2 separate regions of the Homo sapiens genome follow, and region 1 is linked to region 2. The links come from fine-mapping of genetic effects on gene expression. Tissue or cell type: whole blood. Region 2 holds a variant in brackets; the other region holds the start of a gene. All regions are shown on one strand. Distances are from middle to middle.

Region 1 (8,107 bases), 140 kb before region 2:
TTCAGATTTCCTTAGTATTCTCCTAATGTCCTTTTTCTGTTCCAGGGTCCCATCCAGAATACCACATATACATTGTATAGCCATATCCCAGAGCGTTTTCAAACCACAGATTACAGGCTCTAGCCCTAGATATTCTAACAACAACCGGTATGAGGTGGGGCCCTAAAATTTACATTCTCAAGGATTGCTGATGAGGCCAATCTGAAAATACACTAAGAGTAACATTGGTCTACACTTTTAGACTCCAAAACTGTTGTTCGATACAGCAGTCACTAGTCAAATGTGCCTAATGCAAATTGAGAAATGCTCTAAGTGTAAAACACACTTGATATTTCAAAAAACCTGGTCCAATGTAAAGAACATAAAATATCTCATTAATAATTTTCCTATTACATGTTAAAATGATATTGTGAATATACTAAGTAAAATATATTCATTTATTTCACTTTTTTTCCACGTGCTTACTTTTTATAATGTGAATACTAGAAACTTTAAGCACAAGTAATTTATATAGGCATTACATTTCTATTGGACAGCAGTGGTCTGTGGTCTGGCAGAACAGCATCCATATGACCAAGTGGATATTAGAAGTGCAGGTGATTCCTATGCACGTTAAAATTTGAGAAGCACTAGATTATCAACAGGGGAAGGAGGCTTAGAGACTACACCATTTGGCAGTTCAGTTCAATTAAAGAGCTAATCAATTACAAAACGAAACTGCAGAATATTCATTAAGTCCATGAAGTCAATGAAAGTAATAGGGAAATGGCTGAATCACAGCAAAGCCATATACCAATGAGCCGGGGCCAGCTAACTGAAGAAAAAAAAAAAAAACCACAAGGATAGTGGCCCAATAGGTTCCTCAAAAGAGGTAATCTGAAAAGCCCGATTTGAAGTACAGTGATGCTATGTCGTACTACGACACCTTTCACATCTGATTCATACTACAAAATAGTGCATATTTGCAATTCTAGCCAAAATTGTTAAATACAGGACAAAAGTTTAATTTCACTTTTCTCTCCCATGATTTATTGTAAAACTGTGATGCCCATTTTCTCAGGTAAGTAAAATATTAGTACTACTGTTTAATGGTTAAACAGATCACCACTATTTAGTTTTTACTCCATTTAAAAATTTTAATCACCCGTATTATTTTCAGTAATATCACTTACGTAGAGTACTTAAAAATTTGTAAAGTTCACTTTCTATCAGCCTACTAAAAAACCACTGAGCAGATTCTTTCTAATTAAAGAAAAGTCAAATGATTAACTACAAGTAACATGCTGTTTTTCTACAGCACTTAATCTATTTTCATTTGCACCTCGAAACAACTGGTATTAGCAAATATAAAACCGAAAGAGATGCAATGTATTGATAATTATATATGAACAACTAATATATATATAACTAACTATACAGACGGCATTATCTTAACAATCAATGAGTCATCAGTCTTCTCCAGCTTGATGAAGTACGAACAGAAATCTATCAACAAATATTGGCGCATAAATATACATACACACATTATATTACACTTCTGGGGTTTCTTTTTCCCCCACAGAGAAACACTTTTAGAACAGTGGAGCCGCATGCAACCAGGGGTCGCACATATGTGCGCAGACGGTCTGGCTCGTCAGGTGGCATGGGTGGGGGTCACGCTTTCACTGCCTGCTTTGGGCTCTCAAAACCCAGCTCTGAAACGTTTCCAAGGCAAAATAAAAATAGCCAAAATGCCTATTCAGACCAGAGGAGGTAGAGGAAGATGACCGATTCTGTAAAACACCCTCCTACAGATAAAGAAAAGGCGATATGGGCAAGTACACACACATCTAGGCCATCGTTCCCGACTTTTAAGTATGAAAGAGGCGTGGCTAGGGGCTAGATACTTATTTTTAACACTTCCATTGAAACACCCGGAGTCTCCCAAGGTCTAACCTCTAGAAGTCGGGTGGCAGAACCTGAATCAGAACCCGAGTGAGCCTTCCTTCCTCCACCACCTCCCTTTAGGAACGCATGCCTAAATAGTCGATAAAATCTACTTCTCAATGTCATGATTAACCCAAAAGCCAGCCACAACCAATCGTGTTATTAGAGTGCTAAAAGCCTCTATCCACAACAAACACTCCACTTGGGATGACATTAAAACTTTCGATAAAGGTGTACTTTCAACGTCGTGCTTTAGCCTTTGAAAATACATTTACAAAACTGCAGCTGCAGTCAAAAGGAAAACATCACACGCCTCGAAAGCTGAAGGGCGTGCCTTTTTCTCTAACGAAGACCGTGTGGCCATTTCTTCTCAAAGGGTCTGCAGTCACTTAAGATAGCAACGCGTAAAGGACAGCCGTTCTGAGAAGACAACCAGCTCCCCTGAGATGGGAGGCGGGCTGCACGCTGGTAAAGAGGATTTTTCAATTCAAGGACTTTGAGGAGATTCCGCCCAGATAAGCTGGAGGGGAGCGAATGCACGTCCATCCAGCAGGGGCAGGGCACCGGGAAAGACCGCAAAGAAGAAAGTGTCCGGTTTAAGGTCAACAGTCCTCGAGGGACGCCCCAGGTGGATTCCCCGGGTGGGCTCCCCGGGTGGGTGGAGGCCTGCAAGCCCCACCGCGATTAGGGAGTGGGCCCAGGGCGCGGGAGGGGCCGGGCCGGCCTTTTGCGCACACACACACACACACACACACACCCGCCTTTTGCAGACACACGCGCGCGCACACACCCGCCTTTTGCACATAGACACGCACACACCCGCCTTGTGCACACACGCGCGCACTCTCCCGCACTCACACACACACCCGCGCACCCTCACACTCTCCTCCCTGGGGGCGGGGCGGGCGGGCGCTGCCCTCACACAGGAAGTCAGGAAACCCAGGGGGCAGAGAAGCCACAACTTCGGGCCATTTAAACCCTCTCGCCCACGTCAGCCAATAGGCTGCGCCGGCCCCCTCCCCCTCGGCGCCTAACCCCCGCGCCCAGAGCCCCTCGCTGCGCGCCCGACCTCCCTTTGCGCGCACCTCCGCGGCGCCGCCGCCGCCGCCGCCGCGCCTCCCGCACACGCCTCCCCCCGACTCCACCGCCCTCGGCGGGCACAGCCCGGCCCCGGCGCGCCTTTGTGCAGCGCCTCGCCAACCTGCCCTCCGTCCGCCAGGACCCGCGCCCTGCACCTCACCGGGAGCCCGGCGGCCTCGCAGCAGGCGGCTCCCTTCTTAGTCCGCCCCGCGGCTGCGGGTCGACGACGCGAGCCCGAAGAGCGTTCACACGGCTACGGCCGCGGCCGGCCCGTCCCCGCAGGCTGGCCTCTGAGGGAGGGTAAGTTACAGGGCACGTCGGAGCGCGCCGGCGCGGGGGCGGGGCTCACGTGACGCGCGGGGGCGGGGCGGGAGGCTCACGTGATGGCCCGGGCGAGCTGGGCGGGCGCGGGTCTCCGGGACGGTCTGGGGTGGCTAGGGGGTGCGGCGCCCGGCGGGGATCCGAATAGGGGGCAGCCAGCGTACGGTGTGGGAACTCGGGCCGGCGCGGGAGCCTGCGGTCAAGGGGGCTCAGCACTTTGTAAACAAGGAGTGGGAAGCGTTAAAAAAACGCTCGTAGGGAAAACCAGGGAAGGGCGGACATAGCGCCAGGGTGGCAGGAATGGAGCCCGGGCAAAGACGGCCCTGCCGTGGGCCCTAGCGCTCCCTTCGTCGGCCCCTGGAGCTGCGGCCGGGCGTGGGTCAGTCGTTCACGGGCCCGGAAATTCCACTGGGACACCCGAAAAAGTGCTGCACGCCGCCTGAGGGAGACGGAAAGGGACCCGGGGCACTGAGTCCATTGCTGGGGTCGCCAGGGTACGTGGCAGGACCCGCTGTGCACACTCGGGACTGAGGAGACCCCTGGGACGCGGAGAGCCGCTCCAGGGCAGAACCAGTCCGTCAGCATTTAGCCTTCCACGGGCCTGAGGGTGCGAGCCCTGCGGGGGCCACAGGGTCATTGTCCAAAGTCATCCCCGTTTGCACTGTGGCAGCACCGAACCCGGAAGTAACAGCTTTGGCAGGTCTTTGATGGTGATCCAGTGGCAGGAGGAGCTCAGCTGGAATGGGAATCAGGAAAGAGACCTGGCTTCTGCCATTTATTGGCACTTCACCCTTCTGAACCTCAGCTTTCAAATGAGAGCTGGCTTCTAGGTCTAGAATACAGTGAGTGTGAGAAAAATAACTGAGAGGCGTTGGGACTTCAGTAACTACTCATTCCTTAACCAGTTGTTGATTGTGCCTGTTGTGCCAGGATGAAATATTTGTTAATAATAGAGACCAGAAAGGAGAGGGGGGAAAAAACAAGCATATGTATGATTCAAGCAATGAAGAGCTACTCTCCGGAGTTGGCTCTTTCCTGTGCTTCACTTCGTACTTGAAGATGCCACAATGCCTGGCTTCCTTATCAACCAGCTGAACTCCGAATTGTGCCTTACAGGATGCGAAGAATCCGGTAGGGCAGTGGCAAGACTTTAACAGCTGTGGTTTACAACCTTCTTATTAAATTAAGTCTAATGCGAGCTAAAGTGTTAAGATAGTCTCCATTTAGAAAGGAAAGAGGCTTACAATGAGAATTTTTGAAAAATAAGCCTGAGACTGTGCTGTCTCTATCGTTGCATTTGCTTTTCACAGTCCTTGGCACCCACTGCCTTTTTGTCTCCCTCGGTTTCTAACCCGTTCTGTTTTCTTGCATTTGTTCAGTATAAGGAGTATTTCCTGTATGCTTTGGCAACTATTTTCCATAGACTCTGCTTGTGTTCTCCTTATAAAACCAGAACAAGAGCAGTGCAAAAAAGAAAACGACCCTGATAGGAATGCGCTGATAACCTTACTTTCCCTACTCTCCAAACCTGAATTGGGCACCCTTGGTTTTAGCAAGAGATAGAACTCAACAGTTTGCATACACTTGCGGATCTGCCTGTAACCCCACTTCCTATTTCACAGCCTAATCTCGGATGATACCACAATGCCCACAGTATGCTGATCACCACCAACAGCAGATGGAGGCGGATAAAAAGAGCTTTCTCGCTAGTGTGTTGTTTTAAAAGAACCTGATGGAGAGCTATGATCATATGTAACACTGCCTCTAGTTAGTTTTTAAATAACACTTGTAGCATATGTCTGGCGCCTGTGCTCAGGATTTCAACAGATCATTTTCAGGATTTTGACATTTAACTGGCTTCTTATGAAGTAGCAGAGAGTTCCAAAATGTAGAACTGAAATATAAGCTCCACACACAGGCAGAGATTTGAGTCTGATTTGTTTGTGTGTATATCCCAAGTGCCTAAAAGCACTTGGCATACGGTAGATGCACAATAGATTCCTGTTAAATGTATTTTTAGGTGAAAATGTAGTCTGTACTTTGCATAAACTTGTCCTACTTTCTTCCTAGTTCTTTAATAAGTAACCTACTTTTCATTATATATTTTTAAATGAAAAAACAAAATTATATCTGGCATCACTACTTTGGCTGGGCTATAAAGAAACAGGAATTTGGCAGTATGTATTAAAATTACAAATGCATATATACTCGGAGCCTTGAATTTCATTTCCAGGGATTTATGCCACAGATGTTTCCACACATAAGAAATAACAAGGTGTTTCTTATTGTTGAGAATAGCAAAAGATTGGAAACAAGCTAAGTATCTATCAACAGGATACTAGTTAAATTATGATAGAGCCATATGTTTGAACATTGTGCAGCTGTTAATCAAAAAAACAGAAAGTTCTTTGTTTTAACATTAAGATCTCCAAGATTTTTTTGTTAAGTGAAAAACACAGAAATACGGTACAGAATATTGTATTAAATTGTATATGCATTAAACTAGGACAAAGTAACATGAGGTATGAGAACACAGTAGATGGAAAGCATAAGAAATAGACTTCATTGTATTCATATTTAAACTTTTTGATATTCAAAATTTCAGAATGTTTTATCTATTCAAATAGTGAAAATGTTTAAAATTTTTCTGGCATCTTTTTGTTGTTGTTGTTGTTATTAAAACATTCAGGCTTCTTCTGTTTTATAAAAGTTTACCTGAGTAAAATAAACATATCAAGGAGGCTGGGTGCAGTGGCTCATGCCTATAATCCCAGCACTTTGGGAGGCTGAGGCGGGCAGATTGCTTGAGCTCAGGAATTCAAGACCAACCTGGGCAACATGGCAAGACCCCATCTCTAATGAAAATACAAAAAAAAAAAAATAGCCAGGCATGGTGGTGTGTGCCTGTGGTCTCAGCTACTCCAGAGGCTGAAGTAGGAGGATCACTTCAACCCAGGAGGTGGAGGTTGCAGTTAGTCAAGATTGTGACACTGCACTCCAGCCTGAGTAACAGAGTGAGACCATGTCTCAAATAAATAAATAAATAAATAAATAAATAAAATCAGGTAAGCTAGTGCTCATAGGCAAACTTTTGAAAACCTCAGAGTTTTTGTTCAGATTGAATGATGTCTGTTTCTTACCGTAATAATTTAAAATCCAGGTACATTTATTTTGAGGCTTAGTATACATTTTATCAAATGTATATAAATTTTCAGAAGTACTCTATTTTTCTTCAAGTTTAGTAGAGCCTTCCTTGAACAAGTTTTAACAAATTGGATCCTCCATTTTAAACAATAAAATTAGAATTTCATGGATCATTTGTCTGTTAATTAAGGTCAACAAAATATATTTTGGGAAAAACGCTAAAGGCATATGTTTCTCGTGTATCTGTTCACTCACCCATTTTGTAATATCAACTGCTTCTTGTTTCCATGGGTTACACAGATGCCCTGTAAATGATTTTGTCTGATATGTTTCAGTATTTGATTATATTTATTTGTGGGCTTAATTTCCAGAAATCTCAAAGAGAATAATGAGTACAATAGCAGTCAGATTTGCATAACACATCTTTAAGGGTTTTAGGAGATTTATTAATATTTTCTTGTGAAATCTCACTGCTTTCACTATATAAATTCATATGATCAGTTTTAACTATTATTAAAGACAAATATTAGTACTTGTGGTCAGGTGTGGTGACTCACACCTGCAATCCCAGCACTTTGGGAGGCTTAGGCAAGTGGGTCACCTGAGGTCAGGAGTTCAAGACCAGTCTGGCCAACATGGTGAAACCCCATCTGTACTAAAAATACAAAAAATTAGCTGGACATAGTGGTGCACGCCTGTAGTCCCAGCTACTCAGGAGGCTGAGGCAGGAGGATTGCTTGAACCCGAGAGGCAGAGGTTGCAGTGAGCCAAGATGGTGCCATTGCACTCCAGCCTGGGTAACAGAGGGAGACCCTGTTTCAAAAAATAATAATAATAATTAGTACTTGTAATAGTTGATTATACAAATTAGGACATTCTTGTCATACCCAACTAACTCAAAGAGTCCAGGAGTGGGGGGAAAAATCACTCAGGGCACATAGCACCAGCTCCAAAAATTAAATTTTCTGCAAGCCCAGCTGCTAAAACAGCCTGCTGTAACCATAAGAATAGTTTTACCTAGTAGCTGCTGAAATGACCTACTGTGACTCATAGACTAGTGTTACCTACTGCTGTCTTCAGCAATCAGAGTTTGCCAGCTCCCCAAAGCTTCTCCAGTAGCAGTGAGCTTTCTTTTAAAACAAAACATAACATTTCTCCTTCTAATAAACTACCAACCTTCTTTTTGTTCTTTGAGCATACCAAAGACCACCTGTATGTGCATATATATATATATATATATATATATATATATATCCCAAATTCCAATTCTGTGATTCCCAAATAAGATGTTTAGAGATTCATCTCTATATTTTATTTTGATTTCTACATACTTGAAGTCAGAAGTGGGATCCAAAGCAGGCTCACCTTGGAGAATTAGCACCTGGAATGTGGCATGAAGTACCCAAATTCAGGCCTCTTGAGCCCCCAAACTTCTACGAGCCACCTCTTTTCCCCATGGTGAGTCTCTGTTGGCTTGAACTCATATTTTTTCTTTTGGTTTAGTTCAGTTTTATTTGGGAATTGGTTGGGAGGCATCCTTCCCCGCTACCAGCTATGAAATCTTCTGTTTAGGGGAACTTTCTCCCTCCTTGCTATAGACTTGGTTAAGATGAATACGTTTTTCTTCCTGGTTATG
Region 2 (8,107 bases):
TTAGCCGGGCATGGTGGTGGGTGCCTGTAATCCCAGCTACTCGGGAAGCTGAGTCAGGAGAATCGCTTGAACCCAGGAGGCAGAGGTTGCAGTGAGCTGAGATTCTGCCATTGCACTCCAGCCTGGCCAAGAAGAGTGAAATTCCGTCTCAAAAAAAAAAAAAAAAAAAACTCCACTATGGAAGTTAGTCTCTGATGAACTGTGCCTCCCTGGGTTCACAGATTTGTGCAGCCTCTCTCCTTAAATCTTGCATGGTTGGCCCTATGACTCACTTGCAACCAATATATGTGGCAGAAGTATGACACCACATGCTATCTGAGACTAGGTGAGAAGAAGGCTTGCAGCTTCCACCTTAGTTTCTTGGAATACTCTAGGAGCTCTGAACTGCCATCTAGGATGACCAACCACCCTGAGACTACCATGCTGGGGAGGCCATATGTGGGCACTAAGCAATGGTCTCAGCTGATCCCAGCCTTCCATCCAGAGACCTGACTTGTGAGTGAAGCCATCTTGGACTATCCATGCCAGCACACCCACCAGTTGAATACCAGTGAGTAATTTCAATTAACACGCTTGGAGTAGAAGAATCACCCAGCTAAGGCCTGTCCTAATTCCTGACTCATAAAATCATGAGATATAATAAAATGGTTATTGTTTTCAGCTGCTCCATTTTGAATCATTTGTTACATAGCAGTAGATCCCTCGAATGATAACCTAAAATTTGGAACTTAAAATGTTTCTCCTGGAAATAATCCTCTAAAAGTGTAATAAATGTATTAGATTGGGCTATATTCTAAATTAATTATAAATTAAATGGTTGGAGGGAATCTAAGAACATCACCACTGTTTAAAAATAAATGTACTTATTTATTATAAGTACATTTATAAAAGTATGTTTATTTTTAACATTATTACTGTAAGAAAATTTGTTTACTATTTCCAGTTGAAATGACCAGAAATGGGCTTTTGGAATAGAAAATTATAGCATTTCTTTTTCAAATCTGAATAAGACACACCTGCTCTTTTCTAGCTCCAGGACCCCATCCTGGTCCAAGGCTTCACTACTTCAGGCCGAGGTTACTACGGGAGGTCTCAGCCTCTTTCCCATTCGAACATTCAGTAACTATAGGTTGAGTTCCCACTATGGTCCAGGTGCTGAGATAGACTATAGGAATACGATAGTGAAAAAGACTAAACAATTCCTCCCATATCCACTGTTTTGCATGAAATTTTCAGATTAAGTCTCCAAAAGCATTACCTTTATTAAATCATTTCATTACTCAAGAACCTACAACAACGCCCCTTTTTCCTACTCAAACTAATTCAAATTCCTCTGCTTGGATTCCAAGGCCTTCTTCTAGCACTGACTCCCCATTACATAACTAGGGTTTTCCACTGCTCCACGACTTACATTCTTAACTCCTGGAAACTGGTCTTTTTCACTGTCCTTCATTATAATTTGCTAATTTCAAAGCCAATCTGATCTCACTGTGTATGTCCCTCTCCTTTGTGCTTGTCCAAATCCCATCCGTCTTTCCTCAGGTCCCACCTTCTGCAAGTGGTTTGTACCACACAGAATTATTTCAGAGGTCAGAGAGAAAACTCCTACATGGTATTTAATACCATAATTTATTTATTTATTTATTTATTTTTAATTTTTTTTTTTGAGATGGAGTCTTGTTCTGTCGTCCAGGCCGGAGTGCTGTGGCGCTATCTTGGCTCACTGCAACCTCCACTCCTAAGTTCAGGTGATTCTCCTGTCTCAGCCTCCTGAGTAGCTGGGACTGCAGGCGCCTGCCACCACACCCGGCTAATTTTTGTATTTTTAGCAGAGACGAGATTTCACCATGTTGGTCAGGCTGGTCTCAAACTCCTGACCTCAGGTGATCCACCCACCTCAGCCTCCCAAAATGCTGGGATTACAGGTGTGAGCCACTGCGCCTGGCCTTATTTTTAATTTTTTGAGACGAGGTCTCTTTGTGTTGCCCAGACTGGTCTCAAATTCCTGGGCTCAAGCGATCCTCCTGTCTTAGCCTCCCAAGTAGATAGGATTACAGGCACACACTATCACATCCAGCTTCATTTAACTCTTTAGAACCTATATATTTTTTCTATTTTATCAAAGAAACACACTCATAGTTTAAAAAGTGAAAACTACACTACAACCCTGAAAAATAGAAGTTCTGGTTCTGTTCAATCCAACCTCCATTTCTGTTCTCCAGGGCAACTACTTTAAATCTTTTAGCAATTTCTTCTAGTATTTATCTCCATGTTTCTAAATAACATGATTTTATTGCTGCTTCTTGACTTATGAATTATTATTATTAAATGAGGTTATAGCTCCTTTACACTAGCCTCCATCTGAATCAACGTATTTTCTTCTCTTTATCTTCTCAATATATATTTCTATCACTATTTTTAGTTAAATTAATATACAGCATTTACATGCTACATAATATTATTCCCAGCTTAGCCATGTAGTGCACTATAATTACATTGCCTACCTTGTACAACTTTTTGTGTTTTTCTGGATTTAAAAATTGCCTAACTTTTTCTACCAGTTTACTCTTAACACATTCCAAATAGCCACCAGCAGTATAAAGCTACTCTTGATATTTTGAAGGTATTGCTCCTTTTGTTAAGTCTGATTCTGAGTCCTAATCATTTGTATGTGATCTGAATTTTTCTTCCAGGCAGCTTTTAGTCTCTTTTTGTCTATATTCCTCTTTTCTTTCCTATTTTCCTTTTCTTTGTTTTCTTGTTCTCCTTTTGGAGATATTCTCTTAACTTTATTTTCAACTGTTTTCTATTGGCGATGTGTGTGTGTGTGTGTGTGTGTGTGTGTGTGTGTGTAATTAGGAGGATAATATCTCTTGGATGGACTGGGCATGATGGCTCACAACTGTAATCCCACAACTTTGACAGGCCAAGGCAGGAGGATCACTTCAGCTCAGGAGTTCAAGACCAGCCTGGGCAACATAGCAAGATCCCATCTCTACAAAAAATACAAAAAAACTAGCTGGGCGTGGTGGTATGCACCTGTAGTCCTACCTACTTGGAGGGCTGAGATGGGAGAATCGCCTGAGCCTGGGGAGGTTAAGACTACAGTGAGCTGTGATTGCACGACTGCACTCCAGCCTGGGCAACAGAGAAAGATCCTGTCTGAAACAAACAAAAAAATGTCTTCGATGTGCTGATCCCACCCTATGGG[G/GT]GGTGTGTGTGTGTGTGTGTGTGTGTGTGTGTAAAACTCTCTGGATTTTAATTCTCCAAATGGATGTTTTACATGAAATGTTTCTATTCACAGACCAATATCTTCTCTTATTATTCAGATAATATATATATCTTTTTTGAGACGGAGTTTTGCTCTTATTACCCAGGCTGGAGTGCAATGGTGCGATCTCAGTTCACCGCAACCGCTGCCTCCCGTGTTCAAGCGATTCTCTTGCCTCAGCCTCCCAAGTAGCTAGGATTACAGTCATGTGCCACCACGCTCAGCTAATTTTGTATTTTTAGTAGAGATGGGGTTTCTCCATGTTGGTGAGGCTGGTCTCAAACTGCCGACCTCAGGCGATCCACCCACCTCAGCCTACCAAAGTGCTGGGATTCCAGGCATCAGCCACCACCCCTGGCATGTTTTATTTTTTATTTAGCTTTTGTTTCCCAAATTTTCTCTGGAATCTGTCACTCATGTCAGAGGATTTCCTCACATGAGTGGTGGGCGTTGATATTCTAACAACTTGAGTGAGAAACTAAAACATGTTGGAAAACCTTGTGCATGTTGGTAGGGTTTAGAGATCGATGGGTTTCATCAAGGTGTGATTGGGCAGGAACTAGCCATTTCATTAGGAAAATTCTAAATGTCTTTTTTATTTTATTTTTATTTTTATTTTGAGACAAAGTCTCACTCCATCACCCAGGCTGGAGTGCAGTGGAATGATCTTGGCTTACTGTAACCTCTGCCTCACAGGTTCAAGTGATTCTCCTGCCTCAGCCTCCCAAGTAGCTGGGATTACAGGTGCGCACCACCAGGCCTGGCTAATTTTTGTTATGTTTAGTAGAGATGGGGTTTCGCCATGTTGGCCAGGCTGGTCTTGAACTCCTGACCTCAGGTGACCCACCAGCCTCAGCTTCTCAAAGTGCTGGGATTATGGGTGTGGGCCACCGTGCCCAGCCACTGTTAATTGTTTTCTTTGCTGTACAGAACTTTTTTAGTTTGACATAATCCCATTTATCTAAAAATAGTTTTGCTTTTGTTGCCTATGCTTTTGGGGCCATATCCAAAAAAAACATTGCCCCTACCAATGTCAGGGAGCTTCCCCCTGTTTTCTTCTAGTAGTTTCATAGTTTTGGGTCTTACATTTAAATCTTTAATCCATTTTTAGTTGGTTTATGAATATAGTATGAGATAAGGGTCTAATTTCATTCTTTGGCATGTGGATACTCAGTTATCCCAATACCTTTTATTGAAGAGACTATCTTTTCCCCATTGTGTGTTCTTGGCACTATTGTCGAAAATCAGTTGGCTATAAATGTGTGGATTTATTTCTGAGCTATTTATTCTGTTCCACCAGTCTATGTGTCTGCTTTTATGCCAGGACCATGCTGTTTTGGTTACTATAACTTTGTAGTATATTTTGAAGTCAGGTAGTGTGTGTGATGCCTCCAGCTTGGTTCTCTTTGCTCAAGATTACTTTAAATTCTTTTGTGGTTCCATATGAATTTCTGGATTTTTAAAAATTTCTATTAATATGAAGAATGTCATTGGTATTTTGATAGGGATTGCATTGAATCTATAGACCTTTTTCGGTGGTGTAGACCCAATGTGGTTTTATAACATTTCTTTTGAATTGGTTGGTTTCCCTAGAAAGGAGTTCTCTAATATTTTGCCAGGTTTACATAAGTCTGGCTGCCAGTTTTCTCAGAAGTGATGGGGTTACGCAATCTTAACATTCAGTTTGTAGGTTTTATTTCCCTGTTTTCAGTAGGCGACTCACCCCATCTTTGTGTGTGTGATGTCCCTGAGTCCACAGCCTCCCTGGTTCAACTTCTCGAGAGAGTGAGCTTCCTTCTTTCTGTTGTGCTGGGGGAGAGGACAATCTTCTGGCATTTTTGGTGGGGGGGAAATTGCATTCCAACAGATCTTTATATACATTTTTAACTAAACCCTCCTATTTTCAGCTCTACCCTGCACCTCAGCCTCCTGGTGTCTACATTTCCCGAGGCTGTCTGGTGTTCTATATAGAGAATTAACTTACTTATTGACATTCTGCCTGCAAGCTTAGGTTTTTAGCTTTCTCCAGGCTATTTAGGTAGTTACACATTTCCAACATTTTGTTGAAATCCTGTTTGCTGATAGTCTTCTTTCAAGTTTTCTTTATATCGTGGCTTTAGGCTTTGGCATTTTGTTTTTTTGGGGTTTTTTGGGTTTTTTTTGTTTTTTTGAGACAGAGTCTCATGGTGTCACCCAGGCTGGAGTGCAGTGGAGCGATCTCGGCTCACCACAACCTCTGCCTCCCAGGCTGAAGCAATTCTCCTGTTTCAGCCTCCCAAGTACGTCGGATTACAGGTATATGCCACCACGCCTGGCTAATTTTTGTATTTCTAGTAGAGAAGGGTTTCGTTGTGTTGGCCAGACTAGTCTCGAACTCCTGGCATCAAATAATCTGCCCCCCTTGGCCTTCCAAATTGCTGGGATTACAGGCTAGGCTTCAGCCACCGCGCTCGGCCTGGTATTTCTTTACTAACATTTTAGTGGAGCTTCAGGGGGTTTGAAGAGAAATGTGAATATTCAACCTCCCATATTTAATTTGCCACAGTTTGTATCTGGGTCTCCAGTTTAATTATGTTGTCACTCCGAGGATATAAGTTACTTGAGGGCAGTGACTATGGCTCGTTTCCTTCAACAATGCTTAGCTCAGTGCTCAGGATCTCACAAATGCTAATAAGTCCTCTGTACTGATTGAAATTGGAATTCAACGAGTGCCTATTAATTAACATGCTCTGCTCAAAAGTTGGTGGGATAAAATTATGAACAGGTTCCCATTGAAAAAGACCAGGATTCTAGTGGGGGAGTTAGGATAGTAGAAACCATAGGGATAGGTTCTATAAAAGCAGGGCCATGAGAGCACAAATAATGGATATTTTGGAAAACTTTCCTGACAATTTAAAGTTGATATCAGGGATCACTGCCAAGATGTTTAACAAAACTTGCCTCTCTATGCAGAACGTTAGGTTAAACGTACCATTGGTTGACCAGGTGTAGCAGCTTCCCTCATATATTTTTGTATTTTTTATTTTTTTTAGAGATAGGGTCTTGCTCTGTTGCCCAGACTGAAGTGCAGTGGCTCAATCACAGCTCACTAGAGCCTCAGGCTCCTAGGTTCAAGTGATCCTCCTGCCTCGGCCTCCCTAGTAGCTGGAACTACAGGCATGTGCCACCATACTTAGCTAATTTTAAAATATTTTGTAGAGACAGGGTCTCACTATGTCATCCAGGCTGGTCTCCAACTCCTGGGCTCAGGTGATCCTCTCTCTTTGGCCTCCCAAAGTGTGGGGATTACAGGTATGAGCCACCGCTCCCAGCATCCTCATGTCTTCAATGACCAAGGTTTCATTCTTGCTCAGCAAGTCACCTGATAATTAGTAATTATAAGGAGAATGGACATAATTGAGAAATAAACTGGAGAGTCTCTCCTATTTATTCATATTTTTACTGTGATTTGACAAGCTAATTTATTCTATTTTTAGAAAACAAGACGTATACATTTTACATTTTTTTCAGACTGTTTTTTCAGACTCCTTTTTCTTTCTTTCTTTCTTTCTTTCTTTTTTTTTTTTTTTTGAGGCAAAATCTTGCTCTGTCACCCAGGCTGGAGTGCAGTGGCACGACCTCGGCTCACTGCAACTTCCACCTCCTGAGTTCAAGCGATTCTCCTGCCTCAGCCTCCTGAGTAGCTCAAACACTTGACCTCAGATGATCCACCCAACTCGGCCTCCCAAAGTGCTGGGATTATAGGCATGAGCCACAGTGCCCGGCCTACAGAAATTAACATTTGTAAAGCCAAGTCCACACACCTAGAATTAAGCAGACAGATTTATAAGAAAACTGGCAGGAATGTTACCACAACCAGTGCATTCACTTAAACCCAATTAATAGAGTAGTAATCTACAATTACATAAAAATTGTTATTATTATTATTATTATTATTATTATTATTATTATTATTTTGAGATGGAGTGTCACTGTTGCCCAGGCTGGAGTGCAGCGGCATGATCTCAGCTCACTGCAACCTCCATCTCGTGGGTTCAAGTGATTCTTGTGCCTCAGCCTCCCCAGCAGCTGAGATTACAGGAGCACGCCACCATGCCTGGCTAATTTTTGTATTTTTAATAGAGATGGGGTTTCACCATGTTGACCAAGCTGGTCTCAAACCTGACCTCCTCAGGCCTCCCAAAGTGCTGGGATTACAGGCGTGAGCCACTGCGCCGGCCAAAAATGGTTATCTTTAATTGTATCAAAGAATTTTGCCGTGTGTCTTAGGTTGAGTTTGATGTGGAGAAGTGTCTCAGGCAGAAATTTGCTTGCAGAAGGTTAACTGGGGAGAGCTGTCAACAGCAGGATTAAGCAGGGACGTTGGACTGTGATGCAGTTGGCACGGAGGCCTCAGCCGATCTCATGGAGGAATCCCTGGAGCAGGGATGGCAGTGCTAACTGGGACAAGGGGCTAGGCCTCGCAGGCTGGCTGTCCCTGGGGAATGGACATAATTTTAGATGAAGCAGCTCCCTTCTGTAGAAGGGAATTCCCAAGGAGACTGAAAGCCGCCACTGCCTCGGTCATAAATTGGGAATTTGGGCGCTTGGGCGGCACAGCACAGCATCTACAACACCAGTGTTGCAGGACACTTAGGAAGCCTTTATATTGTCTATTTCTGCGAAGACTTGATTTTGTTTTTTGTTTTTTGTTTTTTGAGAAGGAGTCTTGTTCTTGTCACCCAGGCTGGAGTGCAGTGGTGCGATCTCGGCTCACAGCAACCTCCGCCTCCCGGGTTCGAGCAATTCTGCCTCAGCCTCCTGAGTAGCTGGGATTACAGGCACCCACCACCACAT

What was found. PIP is the estimated chance that this variant, and not a neighbour inherited with it, causes the effect.
Region 1: ARHGAP12 starts here. The variant in region 2 is fine-mapped to the expression of ARHGAP12 in whole blood (INTERVAL, PIP 0.98).

What each region holds. Positions count from the first base shown.
Region 1 is chr10:31,925,517-31,933,623 of GRCh38, forward strand. It overlaps ARHGAP12 (Rho GTPase activating protein 12), which reads right to left and starts at 3,315. Exons shown (of 20, transcript NM_018287.7): 1 at 3,167-3,315. LOC107984219 (a long non-coding RNA gene) reads left to right here. Exons shown (of 3, transcript XR_001747415.2): 1 at 1-2,527; 2 at 3,146-3,306. RefSeq lists a silencer at 2,987-3,486.
Region 2 is chr10:32,061,099-32,069,205 of GRCh38, forward strand. No RefSeq gene overlaps it. Among named protein-coding and RNA genes, the nearest start is that of KIF5B, 8.7 kb to the left of the region's middle. The variant G/GT (reference allele first, on the strand shown) is at 3,212.